3 separate regions of the Homo sapiens genome follow, and all the other regions are linked to region 1. The links come from fine-mapping of genetic effects on gene expression. A gene starts in region 1. Each other region holds a variant in brackets. All regions are shown on one strand. Distances are between the middles of the regions.

What was found. PIP is the estimated chance that this variant, and not a neighbour inherited with it, causes the effect.
Region 2: its variant is the best candidate, but not a certain one, in a credible set for the expression of SLC30A3 in atrial appendage (GTEx, PIP 0.71).
Region 3: its variant is the best candidate, but not a certain one, in a credible set for the expression of SLC30A3 in lung (TOPMed, PIP 0.80).

The regions. Positions count from the first base shown.
Region 1 is chr2:27,261,871-27,264,622 of GRCh38, reverse strand. It overlaps SLC30A3 (solute carrier family 30 member 3), which reads left to right and starts at 1,576. Exons shown (of 8, transcript NM_003459.5): 1 at 1,576-1,811. The coding sequence starts at 1,717. RefSeq lists silencers at 1-67, 1,542-1,611, 1,632-1,811, 1,862-2,021.
Region 2 is chr2:27,314,744-27,317,495 of GRCh38, reverse strand. All of the region lies in intron 2 of MPV17 (mitochondrial inner membrane protein MPV17), which reads left to right. Among named protein-coding and RNA genes, the nearest start is that of MPV17, 7.0 kb to the left of the region's middle. The variant C/T (reference allele first, on the strand shown) is at 1,162.
Region 3 is chr2:27,202,527-27,205,278 of GRCh38, reverse strand. SLC5A6 (solute carrier family 5 member 6) reads left to right here. Exons shown (of 17, transcript NM_021095.4): 8 at 348-488; 9 at 689-818; 10 at 1,412-1,500; 11 at 1,934-2,046; 12 at 2,399-2,466. Among named protein-coding and RNA genes, the nearest start is that of ATRAID, 8.1 kb to the left of the region's middle. The variant G/A (reference allele first, on the strand shown) is at 1,294.

The sequences.
Region 1 (2,752 bases):
AGCCGGGGGTGGGGACGGCGCGGAGGGCGCGCGCAGCCCCTGTGGCTCTCCCGTGCCGCTCTGCAGCAGCGGCGCAGGACAGTCCCTTCGCACGCGCCGCCCGCACACCTTGGCACGGGCCAAGCCACACTCTCCCCCGCCGGAACAGCCAGCCCGCCGCCCAGCTTTCCTAATCCGTTTAAGCCTCACCTCCTCCGCGAAGCTCTCCCGGGTTAACCCCATCACTTCCAACCACTGTATCTGGCACGTGCTCCCGTTTTTGTTTTGTTTTGTTTTGTTTTTTTGCAAGTGCACTCTTGGGCTCGTTGGAATAACAATATCGAGGGTAGGTGTCTGTCCCCAGAAGCCTAAGTTCAGGACGCCCAGTGTGTTCTGAAGGATGCGGCTGATGAGTTTCTTGCCTGGGCTCACTAACCATTCCCACCCTCCACGCTTCCCCATCCCTGCTCACTCGCTCCCCTCCTCCTACGGACCCTCCTCTTCACAGACTGTCACAGCTTCGAGTGCACAATCCTCTTCCCACCCCCTCCCATTCTACAGTGGCGGCAGGTGCGAGGGGAGAGAACATTGAGCATTTGAAGCTTCGACTTGAGGCTCGGCCACCGACTTTGCTGTAAGTCGCTCCCTCCCCTGGGTTTTAGTTTCCCCCAAATGAGGCAGAATGCGGTAATGTCCAGGAGGGCGCTGCAGGTGTGGAGGATGGGAATCACTAGCTGACACGCTGCCCCGCTGCCCCTCAGCCCCTCTCCATAAACAGTGGCCGTGACACCAGATAGGCGGCTCGACTTCACTGGACCCCCGCCCGTAAGAGAACTGTGAGCGCTCTCCAGTTGCCAGTGCGGCGTCCAGAGCCGGGGAGGGAAAGAGGATGGGGGTCCAGGCCGGGCCCTTTATTCACAGCCTGCATGACCTTGGACTCTTCTTCCTCTGGGTCTCAGTTTACTCATTTGAAAAGCAGGGATAACAGTGGGTTGAAGGAGAGCAGGAAGCTTGTCACCCAATGTTTCTGTATAAAAATAAATGATCATTCGCGGTACAGTGATTGGCAGCAGACTGGGCTCGTGAATTCCGACCCCAGATTCTCCGTAAAGGGGTTTCTGGAGTCCCTGGAATCTCCCTGTGTCACCGCTCACCTCATGTTCTTTCTGGTTCTCTGGAGATAGGTAATGGGTCCGCTCCTGTTTCTGCCTCCGCGTGAGGGTTGCGGCCACAGGGTGACGGCGTGGTGGGCGACACCCCCGCGCAGGCATGCACAGAGTGGTGGTCGTTGGGCGAAGGTTGGTCGTGAGGTTCTTGGGCTTCAGGAGCGAGGCTTGGAACCGGTGGGCGGGACTGTGTGCAGAGGTGGGGCTAGCTCGCCTGGGGGACGGGGCTGTGGAGATGAGGAGTTCTCCAGAACTCGGGTGGCGGGGCGCTCCCGGGCTCTGGCGCGGGGAAATGGGGCTTTGGCAGTGGGGGCGGGGCTTAAGGGTGGGGAGAGGCCGGGGAGCCTGGAGGCGGAGCTTGGGGAGCTCGCCCCACGCGGGGCGGGGCTCCGGCGGCAGCGGGATCTGCAGTTCGGACTCCGCGCGCCACAGTCGCTGCAGTTCGCTCCACTCTGGTGGCCCCGCCGCCCTGCGGGGATCCCGGGGGTCGGCGGGCTGCTCGGACTTGGCGCGGGGCCGGCCCGGCCTCTCTCTTCCTCGGTGGGGCCTAGACGGTCGGGGCACCGGGAACATGGAGCCCTCTCCAGCCGCTGGGGGCTTGGAGACCACTCGCCTGGTGAGCCCCCGGGACCGCGGTGGCGCCGGAGGCAGCCTGCGTTTGAAGAGGTAGGACAGACCTGGGCTGGCCCTCGGCCCGGGGGCGCCACCCTACTACCCTCCGTCCATTTCGTTGTCTCTCTCGGCGCGGGCCCCGGCGGCCGCCCCAGCGCACCGCGGGTCCCTCGCTCCGCTGCACCCCGCTTCATCCCCTCTGGCCACACGGAGCGCCCAGCCCTACACAGCCGGCTACGCCTCCTCCCGGCCGCCTGACTTCCTCGGGTGAAGCGGCCTCTCACTCCCCTCCGGCCGGCGTCCCAGGCCGCCGGACCCCTCCGCCACCCCCGCGGCGCCTGCCTTCCCTGGGAGCAGCTGCCGCTCGGTCGGGCCGGAGCCCTCGCCCGGTGCGCCAAGGTCCGCATTGCCCCGGGCCCAGGGCGGGAGCGCCTCGCTGCCCAGGCTTCAGAGCTCCCTCTGTAGGCCCCGGGGGCTCCCCTCCGCGCGCCCCCTCCAGCCGCGGCCAGCTGTGGGCGCCGGGGCCCGAGGATGGGCCGGGCTCCGCGCGGGTCTTGCGGGCCCCTGGGGGGCGGGCGGCCGCCGGGAAGCGAGGGGGCGGCGAGGAAGGAGCAGGTGCGGTCTGGGCAGCGGGGGTATTCCCGGCTCCGCACAGACGGGGCCGGGGGCGGCGAGGTGTGAAATGAGGCGCGCGGAGCGGCCGGGACAGCGGGCCGGGGGTGGCAGGAGAACCGCCAACGCGCCCCGCCGGCCCCCGCGCCTGCCGCCACCGTCCACCTGCCCCTCTGAGCGGCCGTCCGACCTCCCTGCCCACCCCCGTGGGCCATCTTGTCTGTCGGCTGACCGTCCGTTTGTCTCCGGAATTTGGCAGGGTCTCCGGCTTTTTCTCTTCCCCCACCTCTCTCAATCTTTCTGTTTCTCTCCTAGTCCCTTTCCCTTTGTCTCTGACGTGGTGCTTCTGTGTGCTTCTCGCTCTTTCTTTGGGTGGGGGCCTT
Region 2 (2,752 bases), 53 kb before region 1:
CATACTGCCTTGCACTTGAGACTACTGGAGCCTCCAGATGCTGAGTGCAACCCCAGCTGATCTGAGCTTAGATACGTAACAAGCTGCAAAACTACCCGTTTTGTCTCATTTTCTAGCAGTAGGATGGGTTCAGGTCAGAAATGGGAGAGCATTCAGAATAATCCCAGAGGATCCACTCCCCTCCCGCTGCTGGGCTTCCACTCCCTCTGGGCTCTGTGCCAGACTGAGCCCCTATCCTAGGCAGCTAACTAATGTTTGCAGACTTCTGGGGAGGAAGGCAGCACTGCTGGCCCCATGCCAGTAGCTATACCTGCCGACCCAGGCCTCCTGGACTGAAGGACACGCTTCCTGCTCCTCACTCCAAGAAGCCACTTCTTGCCCCTCTGCCTTCTGCGCATGAAACTCAAAAGCCACAAAAGTAAGTAGAGGAACAAAATAGGAGAAGTAGGGAATTTACCCTGCCCATGCCCGGGAAGAGGGTGTGGAAGTTGGGGCTTTTCCACTAGTGGGCAGGAAGTGGTCCCAAATTGATCTGCTCAGAGGCAGGCTCCCTTCCCCCTGGCCGCTGGATCTGTTCGGGAGTGACGGCATGAGAACTGGCACCTACCCAGGGGCATGATGTCACACCTGCGCCAGCATCTGCTCGCTGGGCTCCACGCCCAGCCTGTCATTGGGCATCACTGCCCAGCAGCCCCTAGCCCTGCCCCATCAGGCCTCTGGCCATTATGTGTCTGCAGGCCTCCAGTCCCAACTCCCTAGAAACAAGTCCAAGGGGAGGGGGCCCAGAGCACTGGAGAGTCCAGACCAACCAAATATATCCAGGAGATCTCCCAGAGGCTGGGGTGGTTTGGGTCTATTTGGGCTCTGGGTTGGGAAATGTGGGATGAGGAATCTGAATGTCTGGGTCCTTCCTGCCCAAAGGGTCACTTGGGCTGGAAAAGCAGGCTTGCTCTATGCTTGCTCCAAAGCCTTATACCACCTTGGAGTTGCTGCAGGCACAGGGGGCCTGATCATCTGTGGGCAAAGGAATCCCTGGGCACCACTCTTCTGAAATGAACCGTCAGGGACTGCAGATCTACATACCACCTACTCACCCCTACTGCTGCCCTGTCACTTGGTAGTCCCTCAGGCTTGATGGGCACAGTCTGGGGGACTTGAATC[C/T]ATCTTTCTCCAAGGCTGCAGGCTTCCAGAACTATGGGGCTAGAAGTCAGGGACTTGGCTTTTCATTCCAGCTCTGCCTCTAGCTTGTTGTGTGACTGTTGGCAAGTCATGAAGAGTGAAAACACACACTTCTCTGTTTCTTTCCCAGGAATATTGCTGTCTGCCATCCCCACGAGGTGACAAGGAGCAGAATGATGGAATTTGGGGGAGTAAAGACAGAGAGGAAGTGCATTAGTCTAGGGAATGTCCTTTGATATGCAGGCCCTTTGGGGCCTCACTTGGGCAGGAACACCCAGCAGGGGAGCAGCCACAGGGGCCTCCTGGTGCCACTGACCTCTGAGCCCATCTCAGCCCATGCCAGGAATACCCTGGCCTCCTTGGTCCTCCTTGAGAGAAGGCCTGGGTTCAGTTCCAACTGCACTCCTTACCAAGTCATCTCATCTCTCAAAGACTCATCATTAAATGGGGGTGTAGGCTGGGTGCCGTGGCTCACACCTATAATCCCAACACTTTGGGCGGCCAAGGCAGGTGGATCACCTGGGGTCAGGAGTTTGAGACCAGCCTGGCTAACATGGTGAAACCCCATCTCTACTAAAAATACAAAAATCAGCCAGGTGTGGTGGTGGGCACCTGCAATCCCAGCTACTCAGGAGGCTGAGGCAGGAGAATCGCTTGAACCCGGAAGGCAGAGGTTGCAGTGAGCGGAGATCGCACCACTGCACTCCAGCCTGGGCGACAGAATGAGACTCCATCTCAAAAATAAATGAGTGAATGAATGAATGGATGAATGGAGGTGTGACCACCTACCTCCCAGATCTTTTGTGAGGATTAAATGTATAAGAGTCTTTTGTAAACACCTTACCAAAGTAGACCGTTACACTGTTGGTCCCTTCATTTGAGAAAGGACTGCCTTTTCTGCCTCACCATCCCCTGGCCTTCTTGGCAGCACTCTTCCCTTTCTGCAGGGCTGCAGCAGCTCCCTCTCATCCCTGGCTGGAGGGATAGGGAACCGGGTGCGGGTGGGAGCAAACCTGCAGTTCCCCCGACGTCCTCACACCTTCTACCCGACTTGGACCTTTGGGCAACTTAAGAATTCTTCAGACCCTTTCTCAGAGTCGTCCTGCTGTTTGGGACAGTACATTTGACGTTTTCCCTTTATTTTCTGAGCACCTACCAGTAGCTTGCTTAGCTGCATGGTGAGGGGATGGGATAACAAAGGTATCTAGGATTCTATCCTTGGCCCTGGGAGGTCATGCCTCGCAGTGTTCTGGGAAGACCCCCACCACTTTGGGAGTTTCAGGGAGAGACGAGGCAGGACTGGGGGTGCCCAGAGCTGCTCCATGGCCAGTAGCCGAGGTGAGCCACGGGTTTCCATCCCCAACCCCAGCTCTCAGCCATACCCAGCTGCCACTGACTAGGCTGCTCAGGGGCAGGGCCGGCCGGGCAGAGGGTGTGGAGGAAGAACGCAACAGTGAGTGTGCAGCCAGCATGGACGTCAGAGCCAGTTCTGGGCCAAGGAATGGGGCAGAAGGATGTGTTTGTCCAGTGCTAATTGAGGGCACAGGGACAGTGTGACTGTGGGTCTGGAGGG
Region 3 (2,752 bases), 59 kb after region 1:
GGCTATAGTAAGCAGAAGGTAAACTGGGAAGCCTGAGGTGTAACAGCAGACAGTGGGAAACTGGTCCTGCAGAGATGGAGGGTGATTACAGGTGCCCGGCTAGTGTTTATAGAGAGTCAGGACATTACCTGGGATGAGTACCTGGAATGAGCCTGGGGTGGAAGAATGGAGCCTCCCTCTAACTGGCTGTGCTGTCTCTCGAGTGCACCCAGCTTCTTGCTTTCAGTGTCCCCCTTGGCCCTAGCAGTGGTGTCTCTCCTTTCCTGTCCACTGACTCCTGTTGCCAAGAGGGCAGGAAGGCTGTGTCTCTCAGGCTTTGCACAATGACTGGGTGGTGTCTGTTACAGGCTGGATCCAGACCCCTTTGTGCGGCACACCTTCTGGACCTTGGCCTTCGGGGGTGTCTTCATGATGCTCTCCTTATACGGGGTGAACCAGGCTCAGGTGCAGCGGTACCTCAGTTCCCGCACGGAGAAGGCTGCTGTGCTGTGAGTGCAGGGACAGGAAGGGAGTGGAGCAAGGTCTAGGGGAAGGGGTTCCCCAGAGATAATTGGGGTGGGGCAGGATGCCAGAGTGCATACACATCCACTGTGGTCAGGATGTGGGTCTCCTTTCTGGAGGTCAGGGGCACACACCTGAGGGTGTCTGTTAACGCCGGCTCTCCTCCTGGCACTGACCTCTTTTGCAGCTCCTGTTATGCAGTGTTCCCCTTCCAGCAGGTGTCCCTCTGCGTGGGCTGCCTCATTGGCCTGGTCATGTTCGCGTATTACCAGGAGTATCCCATGAGCATTCAGCAGGCTCAGGCAGCCCCAGACCAGGTGAGAAGGCGCTGTTCTGTTCCCATGAGGGCAGGCCTGGCCCCACAACAGGAGTGTCTAGGTAGGAAAGGACTGACTGCAGAAAGGACTCCCACCCTGGGTGGGAGACGGTTGTAAAATCCTTTCCCACTCTGAGATGCTAGGAATCTAGCATGTGAGGATCGCGGTCCCTAGCATCACCTAACCACAGTGCTCATCCTACTGGGGTGAGGACCTACCCTTACTGACTCCCCATTGGGCTCCATGTGCTCTGCTGGGAGCTATCACATACCTGGTCTCACCTAAGCCTCTAACAGCCTCATTTCACAGAGGAGAAAACAGACTCAATGAGGTAGCCAGTAAGCAGAAGTCACACTAGTAGCCAGAAACAGAGCTGCGGGCGAATTGTGTCATTCCCTCTGTAGAGCTCATTTTCTCTCCACTTAATGTGTAGACACTTGGGTCAGCAGAGGTGCCCCAGGCCCTGGCTTCCCTT[G/A]TAATGCACCCAGTCTCGGTAGACTCGCTGGGGCACATGTAAAGGGAGCTTCCCTGCAGAGCCGGCCCTGGGAAGACCCCTCTCTGAGGACTGCTGTGTACCTCCGCTCTGCTTGCAGTTCGTCCTGTACTTTGTGATGGATCTCCTGAAGGGCCTGCCAGGCCTGCCAGGGCTCTTCATTGCCTGCCTCTTCAGCGGCTCTCTCAGGTACCCACTTTAACGATTTCCCTCAGGCCTGGTGCACCTGACCCCTATTTGGTACAAGGTGATGGGTGGAGCGGGGTGATAGTGGGTGGGGAATCCCTCTAAGTTTCTCACTGTGCCTGCCCCATCTGTGTGCATGACAAGGGATAGCTCATCTTTGTAGGCCACAGCACAACAGAGATACCCCTGTTTTGGTTAAGAGTTCTTTTATGGTACCAGAAATTGATCTACTCGAATGAAACCCATATCCACATTCAAAAAAGGACTGTGTCCTTGCCTTCCAGGCCCGCTCTGAGGTGGCATCAAGTCCAACTATGAGGAGGTTTCTTGGTGGTACCTGTCATCTCCCCGCTTTAGGACACCATTTCCTCCATAGAGTCCCATAGAGCTGACAATTTTGCCTCGCTCAACTCCTCATCCTCTTCCTCTTTTTCAGCACTATATCCTCTGCTTTTAATTCATTGGCAACTGTTACGATGGAAGACCTGATTCGACCTTGGTTCCCTGAGTTCTCTGAAGCCCGGGCCATCATGCTTTCCAGAGGCCTTGGTGGGGTTATGCTTCCTCATCTCTTCAGTCTGGGTCTTTCTAAGCTTCATCCTGACCATTGTCATCAGTTTGCTGTAAAACACCCACTTTATCCGGGGCTCAGCACTTGCCTAATGAAGCACACAACCTTCCCTGCATGCATGGTTGTTTCCATCTCAGGGCATGTCCTAGGGAGGTCTCTGAGTCACATAGGAGTGAGGACTTGGTGGGAGGAAGCTGGGGCGTGATGTAATATGCCTTTTGTTTCCAGAGAGACAGAGGTGGTAGTTTGGCTGGGCAGGGAGCCTTGCTTTACCCCATTGCTTGTGTTAACTCACACCTTCTTGTTTCCTCTCCTGTCCTTTTCCCCCAGCCTTTGGCTATGGGCTGCTTTGTCTAGGAATGGCCTATATTTCCTCCCAGATGGGACCTGTGCTGCAGGTAATAACTATAGAGGGTAGGAAGCAATTTTAAGGGAGAGAAGGAATTGATTGAAACAGGAAGTTGAGAAGGGCAGCTATATTGAGGGGAATGACCGGGGGGCAGGCGTAAGAGATTCCCCTTTGATGGACCGTCTTTACTGTGAACAGACTTGCAAGCAGCCAGAGGACGCAGGGTCATTCCTGGGATGTTGTAGGCTGAGAGAGAGCTAAGGATCAGCCTCAGAGAACTCAAAACACATCCCTCTCCATCAGCCCCCTAGCAGCCTTTCCTGCCCTCTGGAGTT